2 linked regions of the Homo sapiens genome follow. The protein of the gene in region 1 purifies or fractionates together with the protein of each later gene. This does not show direct contact. Each region holds a gene or a part of one and is shown on either strand. Other genes may lie near its edges.

Region 1 (16,059 bases):
TTTTCAAATATCCCTAAATTGTAATGGCACGTTTTCTGGTTGTATTTTGATTAGAAAATCATCTTACCCTCTTTCCAGAAAACTGGAAGTGGCATTTGGTCTTTCAGACTTTTCTTTTATAGAAAACAACATATTAAGTTTTGTCTTCTACTTTTATTAGAGAGTAATTAAAAAAACATTTTCCACTTAATTCTAAGGTTGTATGATCAGCTCTTTTCCAGGTCATAGGAAGGAAATTTTAAGTCTTCTCCTAGTCAGCCAAGGGCTTTACTGTTTGGTTGAGAATAGATTTCAGATACCTACTTCCTCCCCCAATAAATATTAACCCAGAATTGTCTAAGTACACAAAGAATCCCAAGATTCATGAGTCATGGTACTGAAGTGAAATGCCAGTTTGTTCATTCTGAACCAGGACGAAACAATGACCTAACAGTTCACCAAGCCTTTTTAGCACATAGACCATTGGCTGTTAATCCCCTTAAGTGCCTCTACTCACCTAAGGGTGTATTTATTTTTATTGACTCAAGTTGAATATAAGAGCCCTGAGTATGCACCAAGGTCATGGGCAAGGACAGTGTGATCTGAATAGAGTCCCCTATAAATCATAGGGGGAAAGCTGCCAGAGGGTTAGCGGGGATGGAATGAGCACACACACTTGCATGTAATCTGTTAATGCTGATAGCCTGAAATGCATGGACTCAAAACCTGCGTTCAGGGTTATCTTTAACAGTGTACCGGTAATAGCTTTCCAGAAACAGCTTGTAGTTCTGCTAAAGTCTAAACTTTCCTCAGATGCCATTTGTATTGTTCAGCCACCATAAAGGGGAATGACAGTCTACAAATGAGCCTTCAGAGAAGATAACACAGTAAAATTGCATTCCCAACCACCATAGTTGTGAAGGTAGAATCTTTATTTGGGGAATCTTTATTGTTCACATTATAGGAAACAGAAAGAAACTTTGGGAATTAGACGTGCAGACTTTCCTCCAGTACACTATTTCTAAACACCGGACTGGAGAGGGGCAGTATGATGCAATGCTAAGCACACAGCCTCTGGAGCCAGGCTGCTTGGCTTCAGATGCCAGTCCTGCCACTTACTAGCTGTAAAACCTTACTGTGTTTCCATTTCCTCAGCTGCACAATAAAGATAATTGCAATACCTTCTTTATAGGATTATTGTGAAAATTAAATGAGTGAATACCTGTAAACCTCTCACAACACTCTCTGGCATTCAGTAAAGTGCTTGAAAGCATCCCTTATGATTAGTGTTCCCTGTTGAGGTTGGGAGCCCAGCTTCTCTTCTCACTTGTCCCTGCCACACTCCTGTGTACTTTCACAGAGGAATTCTGGATGGTTGTGAGTGTTCACAATCTGAAAGATCACTGAAAAAAAAAATTAAACAAATAAAATGTGAGATAGAATTTGAAATAGAGTGGCCTTAAAAAGGGAAGACATTTGAAAACATTGGTATAAGAAGCTGCTACTGGAAAATTTAATTTTGAACCACAGCTCCGCCAGACCTCTTCAAGGAAGTCAGTGAGAATAGCTTCCCCCTTGTATTTTAAGAGAAGAATTTTTAGCCTAAAGCTTGATTTTACAGGCTAAAAGAAGGATAAATGCTGGAACCCTGATCAGGTCAGGGGAAATTCATTCTTAAGGAAAAAACAAAAGCTGCCCCAGAATGATCAAGAAAGTGTAAAAATCAATATAGCTATGACAGCCCCAATAACAGGAGTTCCAGTAAAACACAATGCTCTTCCTTAGATTTCAGTCCAGAAACTGTAATGCTATCCTTTTCCAAACCATAAAAGATAGATTAATTGGAAAGTACTTTGGATTTCTAGTAGACCATTTATTTTGTGCCTAATGAAGTTAAATAGGATAACATAACACCCACTATAAAATATATTTTTCTAGAATGTCAGCCTGAGTTTCTGCTAATGAGGCTGTAATTTTGGCACATTCACCTTTTATATACAACATCACTGGGGGTAAATAAGGAAAACGGAAAACTAATTCTCAGCACATGGAGGAATAGATTCAGACAGATGCAAATATCTCTGGGTTAGTTCTTTCTTTTTTTTTTCCTCTCCACTCCCTTTGACTTTTTGTCCATTTGCTAATTTGTCTAAATCTGGGACAATATCAAGATCTGAAGATTATTGAGAGTCTAGCCTTTTTTTTTTATCCTTTTGGTCTTTTAAACTGTATCCACCAAGGGCTTATAAATTAAGTTCTGATGTTTTAATTACACATGACATCATGTATTTCAGTTACTTTTTTAATTATACCTATGTCTACACAGGTACATTTGAGTTTCTTATCAGAGACATTGTAAGCATTTGCATGATTTAAGTTGAAACCATCTGTGATCTTATTCTTTGATTTTTGTAATTGATGAAATGTAGACTTACCTGAAACATGAACAAAGGAAAAAAGAAAGACTAATATGGAGCTAATGAAATAAGAGCATAAGGAATTGTTTCATGGTGGGCGCTAACTAATAAGGACAGTTAAGAATAAATACCCCCCGGGGGGAATCATTCATGTCTCTACAAGCCCTTTGAAGAATGGTTTCCCAAAACTTGTTATATTTATCTTCCGTAGTAAATATGTTAAAAATGTATTTTAATAAAGAAAACAAATTTAAAATAAAAAGGAAAGTCCCTAGTAGTTAAAATGACCTAAAGTTAATCCTGCAATTACGACTCCTGGGTGATGCCTATTTATGTTTAGATACTCTCATTAGAAGGCATTATGTCTTCTGTGTCCTTCTCTTTCCAACCAGTCCTGTAGTTTATTTAGTGAGCAAGACAATGAATTTATTTCCTTTCCTCCAAATCTGGATTTCTGGGGCTTCTGAGCCTGCAGTAGCTGTAGCTCTTTGATAAGATTTCATCCAAACCCTGTGCCGTTGAAGCTTAAAACATGATTTCTTCTCCTAAACCAATTGCCTGCAGTTTTAACAGGCACTAATTTTGATTTAGCTATGTTTGATTTAGTAGCTCAGACATGGTTTTATTGTAATGTCTCACAGTGTTTTCTTAAGTATACGACAATTGACCGGCTTCACCTTCTCATTTCTTATGTTACAGTCACTGCTTTTGTTTTCTAGGTTATCTGCCATAGAACCTGTTTTCTAAACTGCTGTAAAATTAAACACTGTTTTGGTTGGGATGACTGACAAGGCATAGATTTAATTCAGTGCACAAGACACAGAGTCCAATTTTGGTACAGCATACCAGGTGTTCCATGATGAACATTTGTTCATCTAAATGTCCCTGGATATGGTCCAAGCTGTTCTCTCCTGTTATTAAAGTACTAAAGTAATAATAGTAATAAATCAATGTTTTGGTGCTGAAAAAAAATTTTTAAGCAGCTGGCAAAAACATGGTTCCCAGCCGGGCACGGTGGCTCATATCTCTAATCCCAGCACTTTGGGAGGCCGAGGCAGGTGGATCATGAGGTCAGTAGATCGAGACCATCTTGGCTAACACGGTGAAACCCCGTCTCTACTAAAAATACCAAAAAGAAAAAAAAAAAATCAGCCAGCCGTGGTGGCAGGGGCCTGTAGTCCCAGCTACTCGGGAGGCTGAGACAGGAGAATAGTACGAACCTGGGAGGCGGAGCTTGCAGTGAGCCGAGATCGTGCCACTGCACTCCAGCCTGGACGACAGAGCGAGACTGCGTCTCAAAAAAAAGAAAAACACACACACACACACACACAAAACCATGGTTCCCAACTACATATATTAAGTTTATATGTGAAGAACTGGGATTATTCAGTAACTAATATTTCTATGTGTGTCTGAAGGCTCAACTAATTTGCAGTTTAAGTACTAGAAAAGAGTCACAGTATAAAATGTGGAGGGTGGTGTTTTGACTCGTAACAGCATGACAGACTCTCACGTGGCTGCAAAGACATCTTGAGCCTCCTTGTCATGCTCCAGGCCCCTAGTCCACGCACCAGGCTCACAGTGGGTGTTCTATACCTGAAAATGAGTAGACTTGACCTAGTGCTGTTTTCGAGGTATAGCTACCTTGAGAGAATGACATCAGGTTCCTCGGAAGTTTTGAAACGGAGAGATCACTGTGATCTCACTTGGATCCAAATTTTCAAAAATCCACTGTTGTAGCTACTTACGTGCAGAAGACGTGGAGTAGAATCACTGGTTTTAAAAAAAAATGATGGAATATTGGAAATGTAGTGGTTTCAGAGCTATTTCTCAGAATAGGCAGTCTCTGGTTTATTAACTTGGGTTTCAATCTCAGAATAAGTTTTATGATAAAATTATTAGCACAGCGGCCGGGCGCGGTGGCTCACGCCTGTAATCCCAGCACTTTGGGAGGCAGAGGCGGGCGGATCACGAGGTCAGGAGATCAAGACCATCCTGGCTAACACAGTGAAACCCCGTCTCTACTAAAAATACAAAAAATTAGCCGGGCGTGGTGGCGGGCGCCTGTAGTCCCAGCTACTCCGGAGGCTGAGGCAGGAGAATGGTGTGAACCCGGGAGGCGGAGCTTGCAGTGAGCCGAGATTGTGCCGCTGCACTCCAACCTGGGCGACAGAGCGACACTCCATCTCAAAAAAAAAAAAAAAAAAATTATTAGCACAGCTTCAGGCACGTTATAAGTTAAATATGCTTTAGTGGGTTGGACTGGAACCCCAGCCTCCATGTAAAACATTTCCTTTAGGGATAATGTCTTCAATGTTCAAGGGGATGAGAACACAGTTCTGTGAATCTGCCTGTCTCCCCTCCAACAGCCACAATGAAGGTGGGAAGGGCCACTGTGCGCTTAGAAAATGGCCTCACAGCAAATCAGGAGCCAGTCTGACTCCTGGGGACTCTGTGAAGGATCCTGTTCAGTTCCCCTGTGCACCCCATTCTGGCTACTTCTAACCACGTGTTTATCAGGGGGATGCTTGTCATTCTAAGATACTGGAATATCTGCAGCTTAACAGAAGCCAGAGTTACACTAATTTCTGTTTAGCTTCCTCTCCAGTCCCAGCAACCCCTATCCTACAGCTGGAGGAATGTTGTACCCACAACAACAGCGCTACGTTGTCCTGGAAACAGCCACCTCTGTCCACGGTGCCCGCCGATGGATACATTCTGGAGCTGGATGATGGCAACGGTGGTCAATTCCGGGTCAGTAGACAGCCCACTACGTACTTGTTAACCCAAAGCAGTGACTCTGTCAGAGGACCTGCCAGGGAGTCTCAGGGCTGGCTTCCCCATCTCTCCTGGGGACAGGCCATCCTGGCAGGGCCTGCCTGCCCTTCACCTGAAGCCTGCTTTCTCCCTCTACCGTGAAGGTGGATGGAGCAGTCTCTGAAACTGCCCTACCCTTCTTATGAGACAGGACATGCAGTACTGGAGTCAGACTGCCTGCATTCAAGTTGGTCTCCTCCACCCTAGCTATGTGGACAATGCCTAATTATCACCCCTTTGAGTCTTCAGGTCCTCATTTATTAACTAGAGGGATGATAACAATAGCGTGAATCTCATGCTTTGTTGCTAAGAGTCCATTAGATAATTCATACAAAATTCTTAGCATGCTGCCTAGAACATAGCAAGCGTTCATTATTAGTTATTATTATTACCATCATTGCTTATTGCTAATAATATAATTAACCGTTGTCCAAGATTTATTTCTGCAATCCACAGCTTCTAATGTCTTTGATTGGCATTCCTCTTAATTGACATGGTCTCCTGTTATAGCTTCCCTATTCTAAGCAACCTTTCTAGCAAAGGTTTCCCCAGTTCTATAGTTTTGTTCTGGGCCTTTCACCAGATAGAACTGGTACCAGAAGATTGCTACCTTCCCAAGGTGAGGGAGCCCTATCCCCATTGAGAAGCTCATGCTGCCCTCTGAAGGCAGGACAGAATGGCCTCCTGGTAAGACACAGCTGTGGTACCACCAGATTGATGATTCATGTGCCACCACCTGCCGGCATGTGTCTGCTTCTCTCATACAGAGCTTCATTCTCATCCATCCTCTCCCTGCCACCCTACTTTCCATCCTCTCCACCCTAGTCTTGCCTGGAAGTTCTGATGCTTGGAGCTTCCTAAGGGAGCAGCCGTTCTGGGGACTGAGGCCAGTTCCTGCACTGATGAAGAGGAGACCCCTGTCTAAAAAAACCTCAGGCCCGTGAGGATGAGGCTTTCTTCTGGTCACCAATAGCCAAACCTGAGCCACTAGCTTTCAAGAGCAAAGCCTCTCAAGGCCCCCTTTTCCTGAATGTGTTTTTGATCCCCCACTAGGTTTAAGTACTTGAGAGCAGGGGCCTTGTCTTCTACAATTCTCCTCAAGGACAAAGGTTCTCTCTTTTGATAGAGAAGCCTTATTTACATATATGTTGATTTATTGGCATGATAAAATCTAATTTCTTTCTTTCCAAGATAAGGGCCTCAGGTTCCATTTCATGTCTTTTGCAGTGTGTGTGAGAGTGTGTGTGTGTGTGTTGTGTGTGTGTAAAATCCTATTTGTCAGTTTCTCATTCCTGACTTTGCCTTTTCAGTGCCTGTGTCATTTTCAGGGCCTTTCTTTTCCCTTTATTATCTTTTTTTTCTCCTGGGAAAGTAACTCTCCCGGTTTTCCCAATTCTTTAAATAATTATCTTATTTTGTCTTGACTTTTTCCTCTACTCAAAAGTGCGGTCCTCCCCCAGCAGCATTGGTTTCACCTGGGAACTTGTTAAAAATGCAAAATCGAGACCCTACCCCAGACACCTACTGGATCAGCAACTGCATTTTTACAAGATCCTCAGGTGATTCATATGCACGTAAAGTTTGAGAAGCACTGAATGAGAGGACATAATATTCCAATTTTTGTTATTCCAGCAGGAGTAATGAATTGATGGGTGATCCAAGACCGTGGTCTTCTTAGTATCCTACCAGAGAGTTGTCATATTAAGGCTGTGCTTTGAATGCAAATTATTTTTATTCATTACATCAGCATAATTTTGCAATGTGTACAGCTGAAGAGGGAGGCAAATGCCTAACCTATGCTAAAGACGCATTATGCTAGGATTTATTTTAAGCCTTTGAAATGTCATTCTTCCTCCTTTCCCTGTTTCCTCCCCCTTCCCTCTGTACTGTGATGAAAACCTATCCCCGGTGGCTTGGAGTGTAATCTCTGTGACAGTTCTGAAGTTATCAGCGGAGTTCTAAACATAGGATAGAGACCACCTTCCTGTTTTCATGGTTTCAAACATGTTTTTTACAAACCATACTGATGGATAAGGAGCTCAGTAGGGGCTATATACTGTACCAATCCCAAGTTAATAAGTGTAATCTGAACTATAAGCACTCAGTTTTATTTTTTTTAAGCCCTAGCTGCTAATAACTACCATTCATTAGGCTGCCTGGCCCATGCTAAATACAAGGCATGACGCTAATCTGCATATACAACATTAAGTAATCCTCACACCAACCTCATAAGGTGGATATTATTATCCCATTTTACAGATTAGGAAACTGAGGCTAAAAAGGTAAATTAAATGGCCCAATATCTCACAGGATTCAAATCCAGATTAGAATGACACCAGGGCTCTTGCTCCTAACCACTGAGCGACACTGCCTCCCTCGCCCCTCAGAAGGGGGCAGGCTAAGTGCTGTCCTGTTCTTTGCTGACTCTCAGGAGGTGTATGTGGGGAAGGAGACAATGTGCACTGTGGATGGTCTTCACTTCAACAGCACATACAACGCTCGGGTCAAGGCCTTCAACAAAACAGGAGTCAGCCCGTACAGCAAGACCCTGGTCCTCCAAACGTCTGAGGGTAAGGCCCTTCAGCAGTATCCCTCAGAGCGAGAACTGCGTGGCATCTAAAGTGGCTGGCAAGCCCGGAGGTAACCCCACCACTGCCCACATTCCTGAAGTGTTTCCATGACTTGCTCTGCATTCTGCACAGAGCCGCTGTTCCTCTCCTGCCTTTAGAGAGCCTATGGTATGTGGATGTGATCAAACCAAAGATTCCACATCGGCAGTTCCAATGGCTTGGGCCGGCGGCTTCCTTTGATAACAATCTAAATAAGCTGCAGTTGAAGAAGCTGAAAAATGAAGGCCTGAATGTGCCCCTGGTGTGTAAGACAAATGTATCTAGGCTCTAGAGCAGGCTCCCATTCTCCACCGATACACATCATGTGCCAGTTTTGCCCAGATGATTCTAAATTACTCTGTAGTACTTGCTTGTTCTGAGGGTGGGACCTAGGTTCTTTCCAGTCGTGGATTTGTATGACTGAATGTGTTTCAAATGGGTGGTGGGGTGCTAGAGCTGTTTAGAGAGGGCCTGTTGGCTGCTCCTGGCTTACCCACTTAGACTGCCTCCGTTTCATACCCAAAGCGGAGGCCGTCAGCACCAGGATTGAGACTTCCTGTGGGCACCAAACAGGAAGAGACCAGCAACTTCGCATTACCCGCCATTTTCATCTTTGCCAGTCCCTTCAGTCTTGGCTAGGCTACCGAGAGCCACCATACAAGGTTCATCTCTAGAGAATTTTTGCTTCTTAGCTATACTTTAAATATTTTGGTCATCAAAGACAAGTAATGTGTCTCAGATGAGAGGCTTGAATTTGATGGCCAGATATAACCTCTGAGGCTTTTAACATTTTCATTTTAAGAGTAAGCAAGACACATGAAATTAAACCTACAAGGAGGTATTTGTGGCTGGTGCCAAAGCATTCTGACACTTTGGGGTGTCATTTTAATCAAAGAAATCACCCCCCCACCTCACCGGGATTCTCCATAACTTCCCTCTGCAGAACTAATTATGTTGATTTTGTTCAAGTTCAAGATGTTAGCTAAAAGAACTATGGTGGTGTTTTTTTTCCCACTTCCCACAAACCTCAACATGTGCCAGTCACCCTAAAATGCTTCACATGGTTAAAAACAAGCACAATTTTGAATCCTACAGCAAGGATGAAAGGCCCCTAGCCGTGAAAACAGTGCTTTGGGGAGCAGTTGTCAGTCTAAGTGATGCTATTCCAAGAGAAGGATATGCTGAGGGAAAATGCCCACATGACCTGTTCCCATTTGGAGTACAGTGATGTGGTAGCTACAGCTTCCCCCAGAATTATCATTTTAGCACCTTCTCTCAGGGATGACCTATCAGTTTGAGAGCAGTTGCCTCTTTTCTCAAAATACCATACTAACTGCTAAAGCCCTCCAAGAGTCTTTCCTAGATGCAACGCAGAAGGCCCTTGCTGGTGATGGCCTCATTTCCCATGTGTGTACAAGGTGGTTTGATTGAAGAGTGAAGTGCATGCCTGCAGAGCAGAGAGAAATTTGTAGCAATGTTGCTAATATGTGTTATCAGATCTGCGGGAAAACTATTTCTATTCATAATACATCATGGGAATCATACTATTCTGGTAAAAATCAGTTATTAGCATAACAGCCTGAGCACTTATGTCTCTCGTTTCATCCTGCAGGAGGATGTAGCGCCTCAGTTTATTTTAATGTTCATAAGATTATGGTGTCTAATTTAATAAATTACAGGATTGGAACTGCGATCCTTGGTACCACAGTCACAGAACTGGGGGTCATTTTCTAGATGAAACAAACGGAACAAGTTCTCTTCCAACAAAGAAACTGTACTGTAGAAATTAATTTCCTCCATGAATTTTATATATTGTGTACAAATATAAGGTATGTATCTGAATACAAAGAAAAGCCTATCATCATATAGATATCAGTATTCTCTGTTACTGCACAGAAGTAATTTTCTCATGATGAAATAAAGTTCACACACATACTTTCTCCATAACTTTGGTTTGTTCTATTTGTTTCTCCCTCATTCTAATACATTCAGTGAGACAAGATTTAGAAAGCAAGAAAAAATATAGTGAATAGCTTATTTTAAAAAAAAAGATATGATCGATCTGTAACAATAGACAAAGCCTATAGGATCAAATAATTATCTCTTTTTTGTTTGTTTTTTAGAAATCAGTGAGAAAAATGCTATTAACAGAGTTTTGGTACATTCACTGCACTTATGCTTTATTAATCTTATTTCCTACAGTTTCCAGAAAGGTTTGCTTTAGAGATTTTTTTTTTCTTTGCTGGTATTGGGGGTGGTGGGGTGGTGCGTTCTGGCTTTCTAGTGTAACAAAATCTTTCACCTTCTTCTTAGCAAGAGTTAATCCCTTTTCAAACTTCAAAACAAAAATTCTGTATCACAGAAAGGTAAAATTTCATATGCGGTAACAAGTCTAACTTGTAATCACATGCATTTAGTCTGAGGTTTAAATTGCTCATCTTTTGTACTCTGTGAGCTTTCACAAAACCTTTTGCTGATCTAAAGGTAACGTTATGCAGGGGAGATCAAATGTCTACATTACTATAAATTTTGATTGGTTTTTTCTTCGAAAGCAAATTTATCTGTCTATTTATTGGGCAGTGCTTGATAAGTGACCACTGTGTGCTAGGCTGTGGGTATAGAGTGTTGAACAGACGTTATCCCTACTGTCCTGGAGTTTACAAGCTAGAAAAGGAAACAAGCCTTAGAGAAATAAACATATAAATAGTTCCATTTTTACACATTGTGATAAACACTGAAAAACAGGGAAAAGGGATTAGCAGGAAGATAAAATTTTTATAGGAGAATTAGGAAAGCAATAAAAATTAATTAAATTCAATGGAAATTATAAAGAACATGCTATTAAGAGAAAAGGAAAGGAGTCAGGTGCCGTAGCTCATGCCTGTAATCCCAGATACTTGGGAGGTTGAGACGGGAGGATCCTGTGAGCCCAGGAGTTTGAATCCTGCCTGGGCAACATAGTGAGACCCCATCTTAAAAAAAAGAGACAGAGAAAAGGAAAGGAGAATGCATTATTATATGAGTCCAAGTGTGGATAGTTCTCTGAAAGCAAAGTTCCTGGAGATGTATCAAAGACACCCATGGAAAAAACGCCAGTTGCACATCTAAACCAAATTACACTGACTTAAGATGAAATATAACTGTAAGCAATTAAGAATTTTAATGAAATTTTCAAATAAGGCCCCCAAGCCCCAAAACTTGGTCATGGGTATCTTTAAATTAATTCATCTAATAGCCATCATGGCTGTGCCAGTCTTTGAAACCATCTGCAAAAGAGTATCTGTTGAAAACATTACACAGCAAGGCCATCTTAATACACAGAGTTCTAAGGTTTATGCTATGTGTGAGACAAGCTGTACTCCTGTTTTAAAAAATCATACAGGGCTGAGAACAGGATAGGACATTTTCTGTTTATTTTTCTCTAGTTTCCCTCTTCCTATCTAAGTAGATTCTGCCTACAAAGTCTATTTAGGTAGGGGCTAGACATCTGACTTTGTAGGACAAAGTCTATCTATTTAGTCTATTTAGATAGACTTTGTGGCTACAAAGCCAGACATGTAGCATCTTCCAATCTCTTTCTGACCTTTCTACCTTCCTTTTTTTTGAGACAAGGTCACACTCTGTCACCCAGGCTGCAGTGCAGTGGCACAATCATAGCTCACTGCAGCCTCCTACACCTGGGCTCAAGGAATCCTCCCACCTCAGCCTCCTGAGTAGTTAGGACTACAGGCATGTGCCACCATGTCTGGCTAATTTTTTAAATTTTTTGTAGAGATGTGGTCTTGCTGTGTTGCCCAGGTTTGTCTCAAACTCCTGGCCTCAAGTGATCCTCCTCCCTTGGCCTCCCAAAGTACTGGGATGACAGGCATGAGCCACCATGTAGCCCCTACCTGCCTTTGATAAGGATCCTTGTGATTACCTTGAGCCCACCTGGATAATCCAGTATAATCCCCCCATCTCAAGATCCTTAATGTAATCACCTCTGCAGTGTCCCTTTTGCCATGGATAATAACATATTCACAGGTTCTGGGGATTCAGATGTGGACATTTTTAGATGGCCCATTATTCTTAGTACTATACTTTATGAGGAAGGTATTATTATTGTCATCTTTCTCTACTTATGGGAAACTGAGCTGCTGAGAGGTTAAGTATAATAATATGTCAGATCCAGGACTTTAAGCCGCCAATGCTCAGCACAGTCCGCTGTGGTGCTAACATTAGAAAAGTGCTATTTGCCCTCAACCAAATGGAAAGAAAGAGAGGGAAAACTATCCAAAGTCTGTCTGCAAGGTGACTGAAAACACCTTGTCAAAATGAAGCAGCGCTGTGTAGCTGCCTCATATGCTCATCCAGAAATCCCAGCCAGAAGGAGGACTTTACTACTTGCAGTCATGTTGGGCAGATCTCCTGAGGTCAAGAGTTCGAGACCAGCCTGACCAACATGGAGAAACCCTGTCTCTACTAAAAATACAAAATTAGCTGGGTGTGGTGGCGGGCGCCTGTAATCCCAGCTACTTGGGAGGCTGAGGCAGGAGAATCACTTGAACCTGGGAGGCAGAGGTTGCGGTGAGCTGAGATTGCACCATTCCACTCCAGCCTGGGCAACAAAAGTGAAACTCCATCTCAAAAAAAAAAAAAAGAGTCTTGTTGAAAAGAGTAGCGTTCCAGCTTTAAGAAGATGTGGGAGTGGCCATCATTTCCAGCATAATATCCAAACTCTTTATCAGGTCCTGTGCTCATTTTCATGTCTTTGCAGAAATTTCCTCCAGCTCCCTCCCATCCCAGGTGAGCAGGTCACCTAGAGAGGCCCTTCCCCCACTGGTACCAGTGGATACTCTTGGCTGGCAGTGACGAGATTTGCCCGGGAAGGAAAAGGAATATCAGAGCTACATCTCTGAGGCTCTGATACTACCAAATGAAAGTTACTACCAAATGAGGTCTGGCACTCAGAGCCCTGCTTGGGTTGACATCACAGAGCCATTTATTCACAGAAGCTTTCCAGCCCTGCCTGTCCTAACTGGGAGGGAAAATGGGGAGAAGGTAGTCAGTGATAATTAGAGAAAAGAGGGCTGGCTCTCAAGCCATCTACCCAGCATTTTTCAGGATTGTTTTATCTAATGACAAATAGGTTGGGATTCTTGAAACTACATCTTAAAAACTGCTTTCTAAAAAGTGGGCCTAGACAATGTTACTCATAAAGATTAAAATGTCTTTCTCCCCGATTAGACTCTCAGCATCACGCTGCCCCTTTCATTGTAGTAGCTCCTTCTTCTGTGCATTGAAGGAAACCACCCAGAAAAGATGTAATGGTGCAGACAAAATATAAACTTATGCTTCCATTTGTCTGAATGCAAATTGGCCTCAGATGCATCTGTCCAGAATCTTTTTGCAATTACTTATTTATTTATTCATTCATTCATTCATTCATTTATCTTTCCAGAGACAGAGTCTCACTCTGTCACCTAGCTGGAGTGCAGTGTCACGATCGTGGCTCACTGTAACCTTGACCTCCTGGGCTCAAGTGATCCTCCTGCCTCAGCCTCCCTAGTAACTGGCTCTATAGGCATGCCACCACACCTGGCTTTTTTTTTTTTCCGTAGAGACAGGGTCTCACTATGTTGCCCAGCCCGGTCTCAAACTCCCGGCCTCAAGCGATCCTCATGCCTTGACCTCCCAAAGTGCTGGGATTACAGGCATGAGCCACCGTGCCCAGCTCCTTTGCTCATATTTAATAGTGATTTTGGTCCAGCATAAGTACTGCACCCTGATGTGCTGAGACCTCCAGAAATGCTGTCACCTTGTGAGGAACAAAGAACCTGTCAGAAGAACAACTACAGGGAACACCTCAGCCCATCTAATCCCTCTAGCCAAAATTCCAAGGAGGACAGTGATGTGTGTGCCTTTCCAATCCCTAACCACTACATAAACTAAACACTCTATTTAAAGAAGAAAAGATGTATCCTTAACACAGTTAGGGTTTATTAGGTCCTCTACACAAACCTTGGTCCCCACTGAGACCACTGAAATGTGCCCTGGGGCCAGTGGCATAAGCTTTACCTTTTGTATATTTCTAGGTTACAAAGGAGCAGCAATAGTCTTGTCACCCCAAAATTTTATCCTCCAGGAATTGATCCTACCTGAGTCTCTATTGTATCCCTCCACAGCTGTGGTGTAACTTGGATATGTCCCTTAGCCTCTCTGGACTTCAGTTTTCTCATCTCTAAAACCATGGACTTACAGCTGAGGACCTCTGAGTCTTTACAATTAGTACCTTTGTGGCTTCTCTCTCTAAAACTGCTGTTGAAAGTTGTTTCAGAAAATGCTATGAAGCAGCATTAGATACCTCCTGCCTCCTCCAAGGGTCATAATGAGTCTTAAAGTTATGCCTATGATACTGAAAATTCAACACTAATAGAAAATGATTGATAAAGGATCATATAAGGAAATGTATATGGTCTACTGAAAGATGGTTTTTCTGTCTCTGCTTTTCCTGACCCAGAGCATCTGGGCCTCTCCAAAAATAGTTAGAAGAATATGCATTTCCAGGACAAAGTTCTCAAGGTAGGTAATCATACCTGACCATATTTGGGTAAATTTTACAAAATCCAAGGTGAGAGGCATAATGATAGGTTTCAGAGCCCAGAAAAGAGAGATACTTTGTTCTTTTAAATTTTGACACATGCATGATATCCCAGGGAATTTCTTGCATTTTTCCATGGGACTGAGATTCAGAACCCTATTTTTGGTTCTGGGAAGTGTGCTTTGCAACTGATACCCTGGAAAGCAGTTTCATTCTTTGGAATCCTCTGTATGTAATTGAAATACAGGAATTTTCAGTTCCTCTGATGATAGTTCCTTATAAATAATGCCATGGTATTCTAAATTGGAGTGGAGAACTTGGTGATGAAGTATGCATCTGTCCTTGGGGTGGCAAAAGCTGTTTCATTCTTCTAAAAGAAGGTTTTCAAAACAGATTTGTTTCTCACTTCTCAATTGCAATTAATGCCACACTTAACAAAGCTTAAAATACCACCTTTTATTATAAATTATGTACCAGTTGGACATAATTGTGACTTTGGCTGCTTATAAGACCATTTATGAAAACAGCCTCATTCTTCATTCATTTCTTTGTCTCTTTTAAAATCTTCCCAACAAAAGCAAATTATTTTACAGCTGGTTTATAATTGAGTTGAAACTCATCTTTAACACTGTACAATTCTTCGTGACATGTCTTGCCTTACCGTGCTCCAAAATACAACCATCTTATTGGACCTGGGTTCAAGGGCTGCTTAAGTTATGAAGTTGTTCACTGCCAGACAGGAGGACAACCCAGACTTCTACCAGGACACAGAGGGCACTGGATTAGTATACACTATCATAAGCAACCACAATCTGTTTGCTTTTCCTCTTTAGATTCCAAAAATAACACCCCAAAGGCTACCTTTTCAAATATTCTACAACATCTGCAAAAATCTTTAGTACTCTGTCCTTGGAGTCAGTCAAGAAATTCCACCCCCAGAAGTGTAAAAACCAATCAATAATATATGACACTGATTTTCTCTAAATTATTATTTTTCTTATGGTTGAGTCTCCTGCCAACTTTATGTTTCCCAACGGCTCAATTCTACTGCAATGTCTGGCACATGACAGGTGTTCAATAGCGTTGGCTAATGAACAAATAAAAGAAATATATGGGCTGGGTGCCATGGCTCATGCCTGTAATCTCAACACTGGGGAGGCTGAGGTGGGAGGACTGCTTGAGGCCAGTGGTTTGAGACCAGCCTGGGCAACATAAAAAGACCTTGTCTCTACAGAAAAAATTAAAATTGGCCAGGTGCAGTGGTATGCACCTGTAGTTCCAGCTACTCAGGATGCTGAGGGAGGAGGATCCCTTGAGCCCAGGAGTTCAAGGCTGCAGTGAGCTATGATCAACACCACTACACTCTAGCCTGGATGACCAAGTGAGACCCTGTCTCTAAAAAAGAAATAAAGAAACAAAAGAAATATATGGTGGCCAAACAGGAGTACATCACCTAGATATTCTCAGTCAATAATACAAGTGGTCCCCAGCCAATCTTTGCTTTGTTGATTCTTGATTGCTTTTTTTAAGCAGAGGTCTCTGCCCTTATCTAGACCCTAACTCCAGACTCCAGCCAATCCTAGTGAGGAAGGGAAAGAAGTCCAGGAAAGAGCAAGAGGAAAATGATGGTCATTGACAGAGTTGATGGAAAGCATAT
Region 2 (16,059 bases), on another chromosome or scaffold:
TTAAGCCCATTAAGTTCCTTGACTGACATACTAAAATGTAATGAAATGGAAGGCTGAAGCTGTTAACGGTATTGATTTCACATCTAATTCCCATTGTTAAAAATTTTTTTTCTTTTTCTTTTTTTTTTTTTTGAGATGGAGTCTAGCTTTGTCACCCAGGCTGGAGTGCAGCGGCACAATCTTGCCTCAATATAACCTCTGCCTCTGGGGTTCAAGGGATCAGGGATCAAGGGATTATCCTGCCTTTGCCTCCTGAGTAGCTGGGATTACAGGTGCCCACCACCACGCCTGGCTAATTTTTGTATTCTTAGTAGAGATGGAGTATCATCTTGTTGGCCAGGCTGGTCTTGAACTCCTGGCCTCAAATGATCCTCCCACCTCGGCCTCCCAAAGTGCTGGGATTACAGGCATAAGCCACTGCATCCAGCCTCATTGTTGAACATTTTTGAGTCTCCCTTTATTTCATTTTCTCTTGCAGCTCATGTGCATGTAATGTATCACATATGTAAAAGTATGTAAATTATACTAAAATATACTTTATGGATATGGAGCTGAATAAATGTATAAGTATATATATGTACATGCATACCTATACATATCTTCATAATTAATGTAAATAATATATTCTTCATATATATGTAAGAACATATATATATATATATGACCTATAAATCAAAGGGAAAATATTAGGGAAATAATGAATTTGAATTTCTGGCATTTTTGTGAAGATGAGTAAGCATTTAATAGCTCAAGTGAAACACAGAGCCTCGACACTAGCCAGGAATGCAGTAAACACATATCTAACAAGCAAGCACTATTTTGGTCTATTTCAGAGCACTGATATTTTATATATGAAATATATGTATATTTTGATATTCATATTTATTCAAATCATACAATTATGAAATTTTTATTTTAACATATGAGAATAATTTGAAAATCAGATCATAAAATAAATTTTACAACGAAAGAGTTGAAGTAGAAAACAATTTAGTACCAAAGGGCAGTCATTTCTCAGGAAACAAAAAGGCAGTTGGAAACTTTACACCAACAAATCGAATGTTCTCATTTGGCTGGCAATTGATAAAAACGCATCCTGTTGTTGTGAATACTTAAAGTAAATGATCCAGAAGAGTGCAGTTGATGCCCAGGGTATTGGGATTGGCAGTACCAGTGTAAACTGAGTGCAAATTATGGTACTTACTGCCTGATATTTCCCCGCCAATAGTAATTAAGCTACGTAGATATAAAGAAATTATCAGATGGGGAAAAGTGCCCACAGGCTCACATGCACACCAAACACATAGACACATGTACCGATTTTAGTTCATACCAGATGTGTGAAGAAAACACTCTTTTCTGATCCCTTTTAGTAACAATGATGAATCAACAAAATCAAATGGGTTAGACTACATAAAGTGCCTTAGGCCTGTGATTTATGGTAACATTTGTAACTGTATATAAAATCACTCATTTGGCTGACATTTAATGAGTCCCTTCTATGTAGCAACATTGTGCATATCCTTGTGGAAAAGACAGTTGCTGCAATTACTTGCACAACTCAATGGAGTGTGTACTGGCCGTTCTCCTGGGACAAAGAACCAGGACACTGAGCAGCCCTGGCTAGGCTTAGCAGGAGAGGAGTGTGGCCTCATGTTTGTTCTTATGGGGATACTGCTTTGAGCTGCAGATATTCCTATAGTCTATTTTCCCCCATGATGCCTGACGGAAGTGTGTGTGTGGTTGTCATATCTGTTTCCCAGAAGTTTCCAAGCCTCAATGATTCTCAGAGTCATGGTCAGGTAAGGCTGTGCATGACCTCCCGCTCCAGACCATACACAGCCCCTACATTGCTAAGTAGCTCTCTCAGATTGCTCTTCCATATTCTCATAGGTTTCACTCTGGATGAACAGTTCATTTGCAGCTTCTCTTCCGTGCCACACTTGGAACCTCAGAAAACTCTGAGTGATATGGGCACACCTCACACTCCTTCCTTCTCAGCAAATTTGCCACCTACTATGCATGTGGTGGATCAGATAAGGTGCATTTTCTTCTCCTTTGCCCCTTGAAACTTGGAGTCCATTTGAATTGTGTCACATCACCCCATTGTGCTCTAGTGGGAGAGATGAGCAGAAACTTCCCACACACTGCCTCCCTTTCCCTTCCCCCAGATACCCACTCATCTCCCAGTCCTCCTGGAGTGGTTCTGTTTGGGAAACTAGGGCTCAGCTCTCACCTGCTTTGAATGTGTTACAAGTCACAGGAGGAGTGATGCCCTTGGAGTTGGGTCATTTTAAAATCCAAATCTCTGCTCCCAGATTGAGCCATGTTCACAACAAAGAACACCCTTTCCATGTGGCCACAAGAGAGCAAGAAGGAACACATTCAATGAGTACTTTACTTATCAACTGGGCCACATGTTTATGCACTGTCTGCACCATATCACAATTCTGGATCCCTCACATACGGCATATATCTTAACAGGTCATTCAGTCTCAATGTTCTCGTTCCTTTCTCTGCCTTCTGTAGAGGAATAATAGGTTCAGAATCAGAAATGTCCCCTCTTGAAATATGTGCGTTGTCTTTGTGAATATATCAATAATAGTATAAGCATACAAATTATTTATGTTTTTTTCTTTAAAATACAGTACTGTGACCATCCACTTGAACAATATTAGTGGACACATTTTTGGTTTGCTTTGTTTCATTTTTTTCCCATTAAGGAAATGTCTGCTTTGTTATAACACAATACTAATGCATCACTGTACACTTTAAGACTCCTCGTTGTTCAACTTTTTCTCTTAAAGTCTCCTTTTTGGAACATAGAGCTTTTTCATAGAAAAAGTATTTCTTCCTGGAAGAATATTGAAGTGGAGACACTCATAAAGTGTCTGTGAAAATACAACTCTCTAGGAGTAAGGGTTCTTTCTGTGAAATAACACATCAAAGAGGAATGAGGAGAGCAAGACAAAACCCAGTAGAGATGGATTGGAATGGGATGCATTACTTTGGAGTCATGAAACATATGTACTGTCTGTGTATATGTATATAAACATTTGTGTAAATATATGTGTGTGCGTATGTATGCATGCACACATGTTTCTTAGCTCTGTTCACCAAAAAGACCTAGAAGCAAATGCACTCAAGTAGCAACTTATACACCTAGGATTCAAATATTTGTCTTTATACCATTCCCCACTAAAAGAACCAGAAAACCTTGAAGGAATGTCTTTTTCTAGAGCTGAGGCAAGATCAAGATGAGCCTGGAACATATTATGCCAAAAAGAAAAGAGGTACTCCAATAAACAATGGGGCATGTCACAGGGACAGAGAAAAACGATTAAAAAGAGCTTCCCTAGTTGAATCTGGGTAAATTTGAACACCAGTATAATTAAGGACAATAATGAATTATAGATTATAAAAAGGAATCCATGTGCCCATTGAAATAAAAGATTCACAAAAGAGAAAAATATGGACTTTTGCTTATAGTCAAATGCTAAGTGTCAACAAGTAAATGTAGAGAAAGGAATGCTGGAATAGGAAAAAAAATCATTATTTTGTAACCACCATGCTAGAAATGGACTCCATCAAGAACCATTAGTAGATGCTAAATCTATGGGAAATGTTGATAACAAGCATATTTATATGGTCCTAATGTTATCTCCCCATGGGTTGCTTATTAGTTGTAAGTGGTAGAGTAGAGGGCTGGGAAGGCGTAGGGGACCTTCAAATTCTGCTTGGCCAAGTACTCAGTTCTGGAATCATAAATGAGGCCAGAGAGAGAGCTTGTGCCTCTGGATGTGATGCCCTGAGAACAGATCATTTACATTTCATTTGTCTGAATGCATAACCTAAGTCTAACATGAGACAGAGACACATTCAAAATGATGAACATTTTATTTATAAAAAGGGGCTAGATTCTTTAAAAATATCAGTTGCCTGAAAGTCAATGTATTTAGTACTGTTCCAACTCACAGCAGCCTGGAAAGACATGGCAACAAAACCTGACCCTAAACTGGATCCTAAATTGGTGAGGGGAGTGCTACACAAATGACATTATTGGTCAGTTGCCAAAATGCAGATGAAGATTAGATAAAAGTATTGTGTTAATATTAAATTCACTGAAGTTGAGAACTATACTATTCATATACACATTTATTTTTAAGAAATATGTACCAAAGTATTTAGGATTAAGGAGAAATGATTTGGGTAGCTTATTCTGATGATATATAGATTCTCTTGTGTGTGTGTGTGTGTGTGTGTGTGTGTGTGTGCGTGTGTGTGTGTATGTAATTATACAGAAAGGAATATTTTGGTATATATATTTCAAAGTGTTGACAATAGGTAAGTCTGGATAAAGGAAACATGGCTGTTCTATGCACTATCCTCATTCTTAAAATTTCCTTTGGTTTTAAATTATTTAATACCTTTTTAATGGCAAGAAGGAAAAAAAACACAGTAATTTGTAAAGATAAAAAAATACAGTGTTAAGAACAAGGAATCTCAAGGTTCCAGGACTGATGGGAAATATGTGAAGGTGACATTAATACATGTTCTGCCATGAATAGAAATATTTTTCCAAATGAATGTATGAGCAGTGATACCATAAGGGGCCTGGGTTCCATGGAATAAATCTTGAAAAATGATGCAGAGTTACGCTGTTAGGTTCCACGCTGATCTAAGAAGTGTATCAACAGATTCATGCCAGTCAGTTTTTCCTATGCCATTTTTGCTATGGAAGTTCAAACTCTCAGAACTGTATTACAGGCCTACAATGTATATCTGTCCAAAGCTAGGTGTTATCCAAGCCTGGGGAAAATACACAGACAACATTATTAAGTAAGGCTGTAGTTAAACCTGGAATGGTGGTATCATTTGTTGATTTTAGGTAACCATAGTGTGGCCATTGCATTTACCATTTACAAGCTATATACAGGTCCATATGCAGGAATACAAAATTATGAAAAAATACAAAATTTGCAGAGAATCAAAATGGAAGCTTTTTCTTAACACATTCTGTATCTGAACCTGACCTGACCTCATGCTAGGCTATTCATAGTCTCTAATGAGCCCATTTGGCATGAATATCATATGCTTTACTGCAAATATATAGTTACATTTGATTAACAATGTAAACAATTTGATATGAGTATCATATGCTTTACTGCAAATATATAGTTACATTTGATTAACAGGGTGCTACTACAGACCCCATTAGGGAAAAAAGAAAAAAAAACCCTGCACAGATACTATGTTACTTTTCTAAAATCTGAAAGTTTCAAAATCTTAAGATACCTGGGCTGGGTGTGGTGTCTCACACCTGTAATCCCAGCACTTCGGGATGCCAAGGCAGGAGGATCGCTTGCCAGGAGTTCAAGACTGTCCTGGGCAACAACATAGTGAGACCCAGTATCTACAAAAAATAAAAATAAAAAAATAACTGGTCATGATGGTGCATGCTTGTAGTCCTACCTATTCAGGAAGCTGAGACAGGAGGATTGCTTGACCCCAGGAGTTCAAGGTTGCAGTGAGATGTGATCATGCCACTGCACTCCAGCCTGAGAAACAGAGCAAGACTCTGTTTCTGGAAAAAAAAAAAAAAAGTGTTTTAGGTAAACGATTGTGGATCTGTGCTGTCTAATTTCATTAGCAGACAAGTTATTTATCCTTCTTAAGTAACAATAATAAGAGAAAATGTAATACTAAAAAGTGGAATTGAAAATGGAACACTAAAATTCATTTAATGAACCCAGAATCAGGCAAGATTTTAAAACTCTGACTTAAAGAAAGACAATGTGGTAAATTATCCATAGCTGTGCGACCTATTTTAATTATAAGTAGAACCATAATATACAAGTACTCCAAATGTACTTTCTCTTTTCCTTCTGCAGTTATTAGCCATGTGCAGGCAAAGACATAGTGGCATAGTGGCAAATTTTTCAGACTAAGAATTTAGATTCACAATCCCACTCTTTGCTGCCATTATCTTAGTCACTTGTACTCCTTTACCAGTTTCTCTAAATGTAAAATAAAATAGGCAATTTTGGTTAATGTAAGCTTTCTTATGAATTTTAAAATGAAGCGATTCTAAAGCTTCCAGAGTTTATATTTTTATATTCTTATTCCATATTATTCTAAAATACATACTCCTAGAATTTTATTGAACTGTAAAAATGTAATTTTGTTTGTTTTGAGAACAAAAACCCACTTATCCTAATCACTTTTCTTTCTTTCTTTATTATTTTTTTATACAGTGCAAGTTCCAGGGCCAGTAGAAAACCTGCAAGCTGTATCTACCTCACCTACCTCAATTCTTATTACCTGGGAACCCCCTGCCTATGCAAACGGTCCAGTCCAAGGTTACAGATTGTTCTGCACTGAGGTGTCCACAGGAAAAGAACAGGTAGGTGAAGGAATGGACCACACTGCTTCCATCTGTTGGATGTTTCCATCCATTGGATAGCTCTAGGGCTGGAGAAATAGGAAAAGACTCGCAAACTCTTGAAACAGCCCAGTGTTAACACATTCATTGAAAAGCTGATTAGTTTTAAAGCACTTGTTATTGGAAACTTTACACAATTTAATTAAATTCTGGTGGTAAGAGGTAAATGGGCAATAAAGTGAAGTCAATAGAAAGGATACCAATTTTTTGGTTGAGTCTGCAGTGGCCTGGCGTGTGTGGGCAACCAGATTTGTATTAACTCACCTGGTCGTGGAAGGCATTTGCAGTTTTATTCCTTAGACTAAGGGGTGATTGCCCTCCTAGTCAATGGCGTTTGCCAAACTGCTTTTTTCATTCTAAGACATTTATATCTAACTCCCTTCCATCATCAGGATGTGTCCTACCATTTTTTAATGTTTTCAGAAGAACTTACTCTGAGAAGCCTAGTCTCCTTCTCCTTACATTTTGCTCCTACCCAATGGTTAGCATAGACACCTGAAAAGAAGCAAATTAACTGTTCAGGTAAACTAAAAGTAAAAAGGTCTTTAGGGAGACACATGAAACTGAAAAATTCTATTTGGTGATACATGCACACACATATGTTAAAAATAGAAATTGAGTTTCATATATATGTGTATATATAATATGTATACCTATATAATACATATATATTACATATATACGTATATGTATTATACATGTATAATACATATATAAGCATAATACATATACATATATTATATATTATATAATACATATATACATATACATATATAATACATATACGTATACATATATAATACATATACATGTGTATATATACATATATGTGTTATACATAATACATATATACCACATATATGTATTATAACACATATATACCACATATATGTATTGTAACACATATATACATATATGTATTGTAACACATATATGTATATATGTATATATACATATATGTATTGTAACACATATATGTATATATGTATATATACATATATGTATTGTAACACATATATGTATATATGTATATATACATATATGTGTATATGTATGTGTTATATATAGTATATATAATATATAATGTATATGTATTACATATCTATGTATATACATGTATTATATATAATACATATCTATGTATATATACATGTATGTATTATATAATACATATCTATACATCTATATGTATATAATACATATCTATGTATAATATATAATACATATATGTATACATATATATAATATATGTATACATATTTATAATGCATATATATATGTATGACTGTTGAGGTATTTACTTCCAGATTCTCAACTTCATGTAGGAAAATATATACAGACATGTATATATTCAATAGTTAAATCAAAAATTGGCCCCAGGATATGGGAGTTCTTATTATTTGTTGTGAAGCTTGTCAAGCATAGAAAGGCCTTCCTGCTTTCACATAAACTGCATGATCAGAATTTTTACTTAAAAATAAGAAATATTTTATATTCAAAAATAGCTCAAGCCCAGTCCCAAATTATATTATAAGATAAGCATTACAAGAGCTCCTCCTATGTAATCATGGGTTGTATTTTTTTCTTGCTATCTTCAAGCTATTTTTTGCTCTTGTTTTTTCAACTTTCTGTTTTATCTGCCTTTCTATATATTTTAGCTCTTCAACGCATTTTGCCAACCAATTTAAATAAATTCAAAACCATCATCATCCAAGATAGATGTGAGTGTGAAGATCTGATTCCTCAGTAACCTTCACCTCCAGTATCTCATTTACTGCAGCCATGAGAGGCTCAAATAATTTCAACCAATCTAACAGCATTTTGGGAGATAAAAATTGTGGCAAAGTGTCTGACAGTTTCAAGAGCTGTGGGTATATTTCAGCAAGAGAAGCACAAAATCTATTATTTCTTGGTGAATTATTCCATTTTGGGTACAGGAGAAAATCTCTGTTCCCATGGCGTTATAAGCTGCCTTCTGCCTGTGAGGGTTTAGGTGTGGGTAGAATAACCCAAACCATTCAGTACATTGAGTAGTGTTAAACAAATTGGAACTTAATGACTGTAAAAATAGCATGTGCTGTTTTAACAAGGAGTCTACAGATTAGTTGGTTTTTAGTGGGGGAGTCTGTGTCACAAGGTAGGTTTTATAGCTCATTAGAAGGCTGGAGTGTAGTTTGTAAGAGTCTAATGTCCAATTCACTGATTGCACAGAATGAGTGCCATTTCTACTTTAATGTGCTTCCTTGATAACAGTTTTGGTGTTTTATGTCTCCAGAATATAGAGGTTGATGGACTATCTTATAAACTGGAAGGCCTGAAAAAATTCACCGAATATAGTCTTCGATTCTTAGCTTATAATCGCTATGGTCCGGGCGTCTCTACTGATGATATAACAGTGGTTACACTTTCTGACGGTAAGTTAAAAACAGTGAAACTCCTTTTACATATTTGACATAATATTGACAATAATGACATGATATTGCACATATATCATATATTCCATTTTCAAGGCTTCCTGACTAAAATTTTATGGACTATTACAGTTAAATGTAAACTTTCTATCAAGATACATACTCCCAGCTGGATGTGGTAGTTCACACAGGTAATCCTAGCACTTTAAGAGACTGAGGCAGGAGGATGAGTTAAGCCTAGGAGTTCAAGACCCACCTGAACAACATAGTGAGACCCTATCTCTGTAAATGTTTTTTTTTTTTTTTTTTAATTAACTGGATATGGTGGCATGCACCTGCGATCCCAGCTACTTGGGAGGCTCATTCTGGAGGATCACTTGAGCCTGGGAGTTCAAGACTGCAGTAAGCTGTGATCGTTCTACTGCACTCCAGCCTGGGCAACAGAGTAAGACCCTTTCTCCAAATTAAATAAATATATATGTATATATGTATATACATATGTATATACTCTTGAGTCAGTATATACTAATAGGTAATCCTCAAAATGTGACTATTGACTAAGAGCTAAAACTTTGTGTATTTTTTATTTCTTTACATTTTCTAATACACATTTGTGCATGTGTGGATTAATTTTGATTGGCATGTTTTATTCCCCCATCTAAAAGTGTGCAGATGATTAAAGGTGTAAATGATAGACAATCCCCCTATATTTACCTCTTAATTAGAAAATATATCAAAAGGAATTAGGCCAAATAAGCTGATATTAAAATTTAAAGTATTAAAATTGAGCATGAAAAATGTGTATGTTGCCTACTAAATGGAAGAATAGACACAAACACACACATTTGAGACAAGAAGTGCAGTGACTCAATTGTGCTTCACTACACCCTTTATTCCTGGGCTCAAGGGCTTTTCTTTTCTTTTCCTTTTTTGGAAACGGAGTCTCGCTCTGTCACCCAGGTTGGCATGCAGTGGTGCAGTCTCAGCTCACTGCAACCTCCACCTCTCGGGTTTAAGTGATTCTCCTGCCCCCAGCCTCCTGAGTACCTGGGATTACAGGTGCATGCCACCACCCCTGGCTAGTTTTTGTATTTTTAGTAGAGACAGAGTTTCACCATGCTGAGCAGGCTGGTCTGGAACTCCTGACCTCAAGTGATCCACCCGCCTTGGCCTCACATAGTGCTGGGATTACAAGCGTGAGCCACTGCACCCAGCCTCAAGGGATTTTCCTGCCGAAGCCTCCCGAGTAGCTGGAACTACAGGCATAGGCCACAGCACCCAGCTAATATTTTTATTTTTTGCAGAGGCAGGGTCTCACTTTGTTGCCCAGGCTAGACCTGTTTTTGAATGCCATAAAAGAGAGGAACAAATCTTAATAAAGAGAATAAATTTGACAAAATAATGGCCAGGGGAAACTAGAAACCTAACTGCTAGATGATCATGAAAGGTTGGGAAATTTTATAAAAAGTGAAAATAAAATACATCAAAGTATATGATGTGGGGCCAACGAAAACTCAGGCAGGTGCAGAAATGTAGCGATAGGCCCTTGTGAATATTAAAAAAGGCCACAAGCTAGCTCTTTTCAGCAACAATTTCCATTTGGTGTGTTTAATTCTATAAATTATTTATCTTTTTAATTAAAAAATGACTTTAGCTTGTGATTTCTTGACAGATCTATCATTGTTTATTCTGGGAAAGTACCTGGGTGTACATTTCACACAATATCAGTGAAATGAGGAAGGGCATGCATATTATTAAGGACAGTACAAAGAGAACACAGGAATAATGCTCATTTGCAAATTCAACTTTAAAATGTATTTTATACGTAATACCACTTTGGTATCATTTTTAATGTAATTCTTAGGCCCATCCATCCAATTCTGTTATTGAAGACAGAACAGAATATTTATTGGTAGAATAAATTACTTCACAACTTATAATTATAAAAATAAAAGAAAAACAAATGAAAGTGAATGTTTTACATAATTTATGTAGATTTCATTCACTCTGAACTGTAATACTGTGGCCTGATTCTCCACTTTGGTTTTAAATGTCATAAGTGAGAAAGATAGATTATTATTCATTAGTCCAAGAATTATCTTCTGGAAATGTTACAATGTTTAGGACTTAGACAGTGTCTGTCAGTATAAAAAAAGTATTTCGTGACCCTAACCCCAATAAACATCACTGTGCAAAGGACACCAAATTCTCTCTCTCAAATGCACTGAAAGGAGATAGCAAGGACTTTATAAGCTTCTTAGAGTGGACACCGTGACCTCGTTTGCATTCATTTTTACAATCAACCCATCTCTTTTAATGTCCAACACAAATGTGTGGCTCTTGGCTTTCATTTCCTTATTATCCAGTTCCTTTCTGTCTACTTCAATCTCATGTCTCCTCCTCTGTCCTGAAGCTGTTCATGCTGAGGTCATATATCACATTGAGTTGTATTTAATCACATTTAATAGTCACCTGCTTCCCAGTCTTCAGTCATGGAGCACTCTTCTTCGTTAACTTTATGTATGTTGTAACAGGTGGATGTTGTGAAAATTAAATGGGCTGATCTGTGTAAACATCTAACAAAGTGTATGACATTTAAGTGTTTAATAAACATTATCTCTACCAAAGTGCACTTCACTTTTTCTCATTATATTAATATTAAATACCCCTAAATATGAAGGATGCTGTTATATTCACCTCTGTTTTCTTCCTGAGTAAATATTTATCGAATTAATTAGACAGCTCAGTCAAAACTGTGCAAATTTCTGTATGCAAAGGCTTATCTTTAGGATTTCCCATTTGTGGAACTAATTTGATATATTAATTTAATATATGACTGTGTCTAAATGCATCTGTATTATAGTGAACATAATAATTCTTTTCATATCAGGAGTCTTACCATAAAAAATATATTGAGACATAGAAAAATTTTTAAAAAAGCAAAAGTTAAGTGTAAATACATTTCTTCCAATTTCATTACTTTATGTTTTTTTTTCCCTGTTCTACTGGGATGCTTGTAAAGATCTTTGTCCAGATGAGCTGTCATCTCTAATTTAGCTCGGCTTTATTTTCTGAGTAGAAACCTTATTTTTTATTCAAATTCCTCCACCTAGAAAACCACTGGTTTACAATGAGCCATTTTTTTTTCACACCACTGAGATTATACAGCATATGATCATCTAAATAATTTTGCCAATTTGTTCCAAAATACTGTCTCTTGCACTAGTTGGTAAGTCACTAAGAGCTTTTATGAACGAATGAACCATTGAAAGTTTCCATGCCAGCTTGTCCTGTGTCCAAATGCAGAAGGACCTGATTTCATAGGCAACATAAGAATGTGCTTATTATTTTTATGAATGTTATTAATATTTCTTGAATACTTACTAATGGAAGGCCCTGATCCAAGTACTTTGCCTTTACCTTTCATCCTCACGATACTACTAAAATTTTCCCTACTTTACAGATGACAAAACTAAGTCAGAAAGAGTTCACAACAGGTAGTAAGCAGCAGAGCCAGACCACATAAGCTAGTAAATTCAGAGGCAAGATTCATTGTGGAAACATGTTTCTTTTATTCTATGATAAGTGCCTTTAAAGGAAAATGCTTATAATTAAATATGAATTACTGGCCAGGCATGGTGGCTCACTCTTGTAATCCCAGCACTGTGGGAGGCCCAGGCGGGCAGATCACAAGGTCAGGAGATCTAAAGCATCCTGGCTAACATGGTGAAACCCACTCTCTACTAAAAATACCAAAGAATTAGCTGGGCGTGGTGGCGGGCGCCTGTAGTCCCAGCTACTCGGGAGGCTGAGGCAGGAGAATGGCGTGAACCCAGGAGGTGGAGCTTGCAGTGAGCCGAGATCGTGCCTCTGCACTGCAGCCTGGGTGACAGAGCGAGACTCTGTCTCAAAAATAAAATAAAATAAAATAAATATAAAATAAATATGAATTACTGCTGGGCAGTAATTACACTTGTAATCCCAGAACTTTGGGAAGCTGAGGTGGGTAGATCACTTGAGGCCAGAAGTTCGAGAACAGTCTGGCCAACATAGTGAAATTCTGTCTCCAATAAAAATTTAAAAGTTAGCCAGGTATGGTGGTGCACACCTGTTACCCCAGCTACTCGGAAGGCTGAGGCAGGAGAATCACTTGTACCTGGGAGGCGGAGGTTGCAGTGAGCCTAGATCACACCACTGCATTCCAGCCTGGGCAACAGAGAGAAATTCTGTCTCAAAATAAATTAGAATTATTTTGGTCTATAAATTCTGTGTACATGGCAGCATACATTTGCTGAGGGGAGGAATTCAAGTGCCTGTGCCTTGGGAGACTCATTTACAATTATGGGGACTTGATCTGTCCTACAAAATACCTCATCTCCATGAGTTTCAAGCCAACATCCTTCTCCATATTGAGGGAAGTTTCCAGCCCCACCTCTCATTGGCTTGAATGGACCTATTTATTATAAATAATAAATTATTTGACATTTTGAAGAGAAAAGTGTTCTTTCACTTCTGCCTCATGAAACAAGAAGCGTCTTGGGAAGACAAATATAGAAAAGAACAATCGATATGGATTCTCTTCACTTTCACCTAGCCCTAGCATCTATTGTATCTATCTATCTCCAAATAATATGGAAATTGATAGTGAGAAGGAGGGAGTAGGAACTGATCACTAAAAATACTGTAGAAAAAATTCTCTACTCTCCTCCCTGACATGACAACAATAGCCAGTGTGCTATCAGTGGAAAGTTAGAGAAGAAATGTGCACTGTAAAAAAATACAGAAAAACTACTTCAATACCATTACAAAAGGACTTTTAGCAGAATTGTATTTTATTGCCTTTCAATTCTTGTTTTTTTTTTTTCTTTTTTTTTGAGACAGAGTCTCACTGTCTTGCCCAGGGTGGAGTGCAGTGGCACAATCTCAGCTCACTGCAGCCTCCACCTCCCAGGTTCAAGTGATTCTCCTGCCTCAACCTCTGGAGTAGCTGGGACTACATGAGTGTACCCACACGCCAGGCTAATTTTTTGTATTTTTAATAGAGATAGATTTTCACCTTATTTGCCAAGCTGGTCTCGAACTCCTGACCTCAAGTGAGCCACCTCCCTCGGGCTCCCAAAGTGCTGGGATTACAGGTGTGAGCCACCATGCCCAGCCTGCCTTTCAATTCTTAATACAGAAAACAGCCCTGATGCTTATAAAATTGTGGTAGCTACAGAAAAAAGAACACATATATATCTATCCTCTTAAAGTTTTCTTGGCTTTCTAGAAATAAGGAGTTAAATGCCACTTGTAAACTCAAATGAAAGTGACATTTAAGGGTTGCATATCAGCTAGAACAGTACCTACAACAAAACACATGATAAATGTTACCTTCTCTTTCTTCCAAAATTCAATTATCTATCAAAAATTCAGTTAGTAATTGATATTATGTTTGGATACTAATTGATCAAAAAGTTAGTGTAATATTATTAGAAACATATAGCATGACATGTCAGTATTACAACATTAAATATAAACTAGAAATATTCTTTCATGTTTAAGAAGTGACTCGGCCGGGCGTAGTGGCTCACTCCTGTAATCCCAGCACTTTGGGAGGCCGAGGCGGGTGGATCACGAGGTCAGGAGTTTGAGACCAGCCTGACCAACATGGTGAAACCCCGTCTCTACTAAAAGTGCAAAAGTTAACTGGGCGTGGTGGTGGGCACCTGTAGTCCCAGCTACTTGGGAGGCTGAGGCAGGAGAATGGTGTGAACCCGGGAGACGAAGGTTGCAGTGAGCTGAGATCGTGCCACTGCACTCCAGCCTGGGTGACAGAGCGAGACTCCGTCTCAAAAAAAAAAAAAAAAAAAAAAAAAAAGAAGTGACTCAATATCACTTAATATTAAGACATTATTTCCAAACTTTGCTTTTAAAGGATAACATTTTTGGAAGTTTGTGAAATTATATGATATAGAGCATGTTATTTTATTCTACAAATAGTACTTCAATTTAAAAAACTAAATTGTAATTTTTATGTCAATAATTATAACGTTTAGAATAGATTAAATAATAATACAAGTACAATTTATACTTTAACTTAAAAATTTACAAAACAAAACTTGGGACCAAACCCTGAATATGGAACCATTTTTATTATAATTTATAAACTTTTTATTAATATATTTATTCAGCAACTATTTACTGAGTGTACACCATGTGCCTTCAACTCTTCCTGATACTGGTGATACAACATCAAAATGAATAAATATCTTTTTCCTTATTGGGGTTACATTCTGTATTTAATTTTAAAATCAGAATAAGAATCTCAAAAAATTAAATAACATTTTATAAATTGTGGAATATTTTTGAAAGAATACTTGCTGAGTTAATTCATGAAAAACAAGCAGATGAGCATTTTGTCAGAAACTACACTGGCTGCAACCTTCATCAGGCACTAAGATCAGAAGTTCAAAATCAAAATAAAAAAAAAAGATTTCATTTTCTGTTATTCCCAGAAAGGTCTAGAACTATATAAGTAAGTACTCATTTGCTCATTCAATCATTAATTCAGTAAATATTAATTGAATGTCAGTTTGGAAGATAAAAGATTAATCGGTGGCACATCATGTCTTCATGATAATTACTATTTAGAAGATAAATTCAGAGTATGGCATAAATAAATTCATGGTCAGATGTAAGTACTCTATAGAAAAACATAGATTTTTTTCCAAATTCTAGTAAAAGAAGGGGAAAGATGTCAAAAATGGCCCTTAGATTCTTGAAAATGCCTGAGAACTTTTCTATTAAACTCATCTATTTGTGAGGAACAAGGATAGGGACTACTCACTTTATAGATTAATATGTGTTAACAATTTATTGAATGCTACTTCTATTCCTATTATGGGGCAAAAAGCTTTATTTCATTTATTTTTCATCCCAGACATCTAGAGTAGTTCCTGACACATAAAAGCCATTCAATAAGTGGTTGTTTTTAAATTACTCACATGATAGAATATTCACTTTTTTGGTAGAGTAAATATTTATTATAAGTATTAAAAGAGAGCTGTATATGTTCTTCCTTCTATAAAGGAGTAGTTAAATAAAAATGTAGGCAAGAAAAACAAAATACCGTACCTAGAAACTCTACAAAGAAAAATATACTGCTGCTTTGCTAATAGAATTGACTCATCAAGTGCTATTTGCAACCTGCTTGTATTTATCACA

Evidence for each region.
Region 2: the proteins of TRIM9 (region 1) and DCC purify together in Homo sapiens (affinity purification with western blotting, with the first as the bait; 2 studies listed by BioGRID). This does not show direct contact.

Annotation. Positions count from the first base shown.
Region 1 is NC_000014.9:50,989,774-51,005,832, reverse strand, and holds part of TRIM9 (E3 ubiquitin-protein ligase TRIM9), read left to right. Parts: intron 1-4,992; coding exon 4,993-5,150; intron 5,151-7,644; coding exon 7,645-7,783; coding exon of another isoform or gene 7,784-7,833; exon of another isoform or gene 7,834-9,769; intron 9,770-16,059. UniProt on the Homo sapiens protein: E3 ubiquitin-protein ligase which ubiquitinates itself in cooperation with an E2 enzyme UBE2D2/UBC4 and serves as a targeting signal for proteasomal degradation.
Region 2 is NC_000018.10:53,198,962-53,215,020, forward strand, and holds part of DCC (netrin receptor DCC), read left to right. Parts: intron 1-6,254; coding exon 6,255-6,403; intron 6,404-8,717; coding exon 8,718-8,856; intron 8,857-16,059. UniProt on the Homo sapiens protein: Receptor for netrin required for axon guidance. Mediates axon attraction of neuronal growth cones in the developing nervous system upon ligand binding. Its association with UNC5 proteins may trigger signaling for axon repulsion.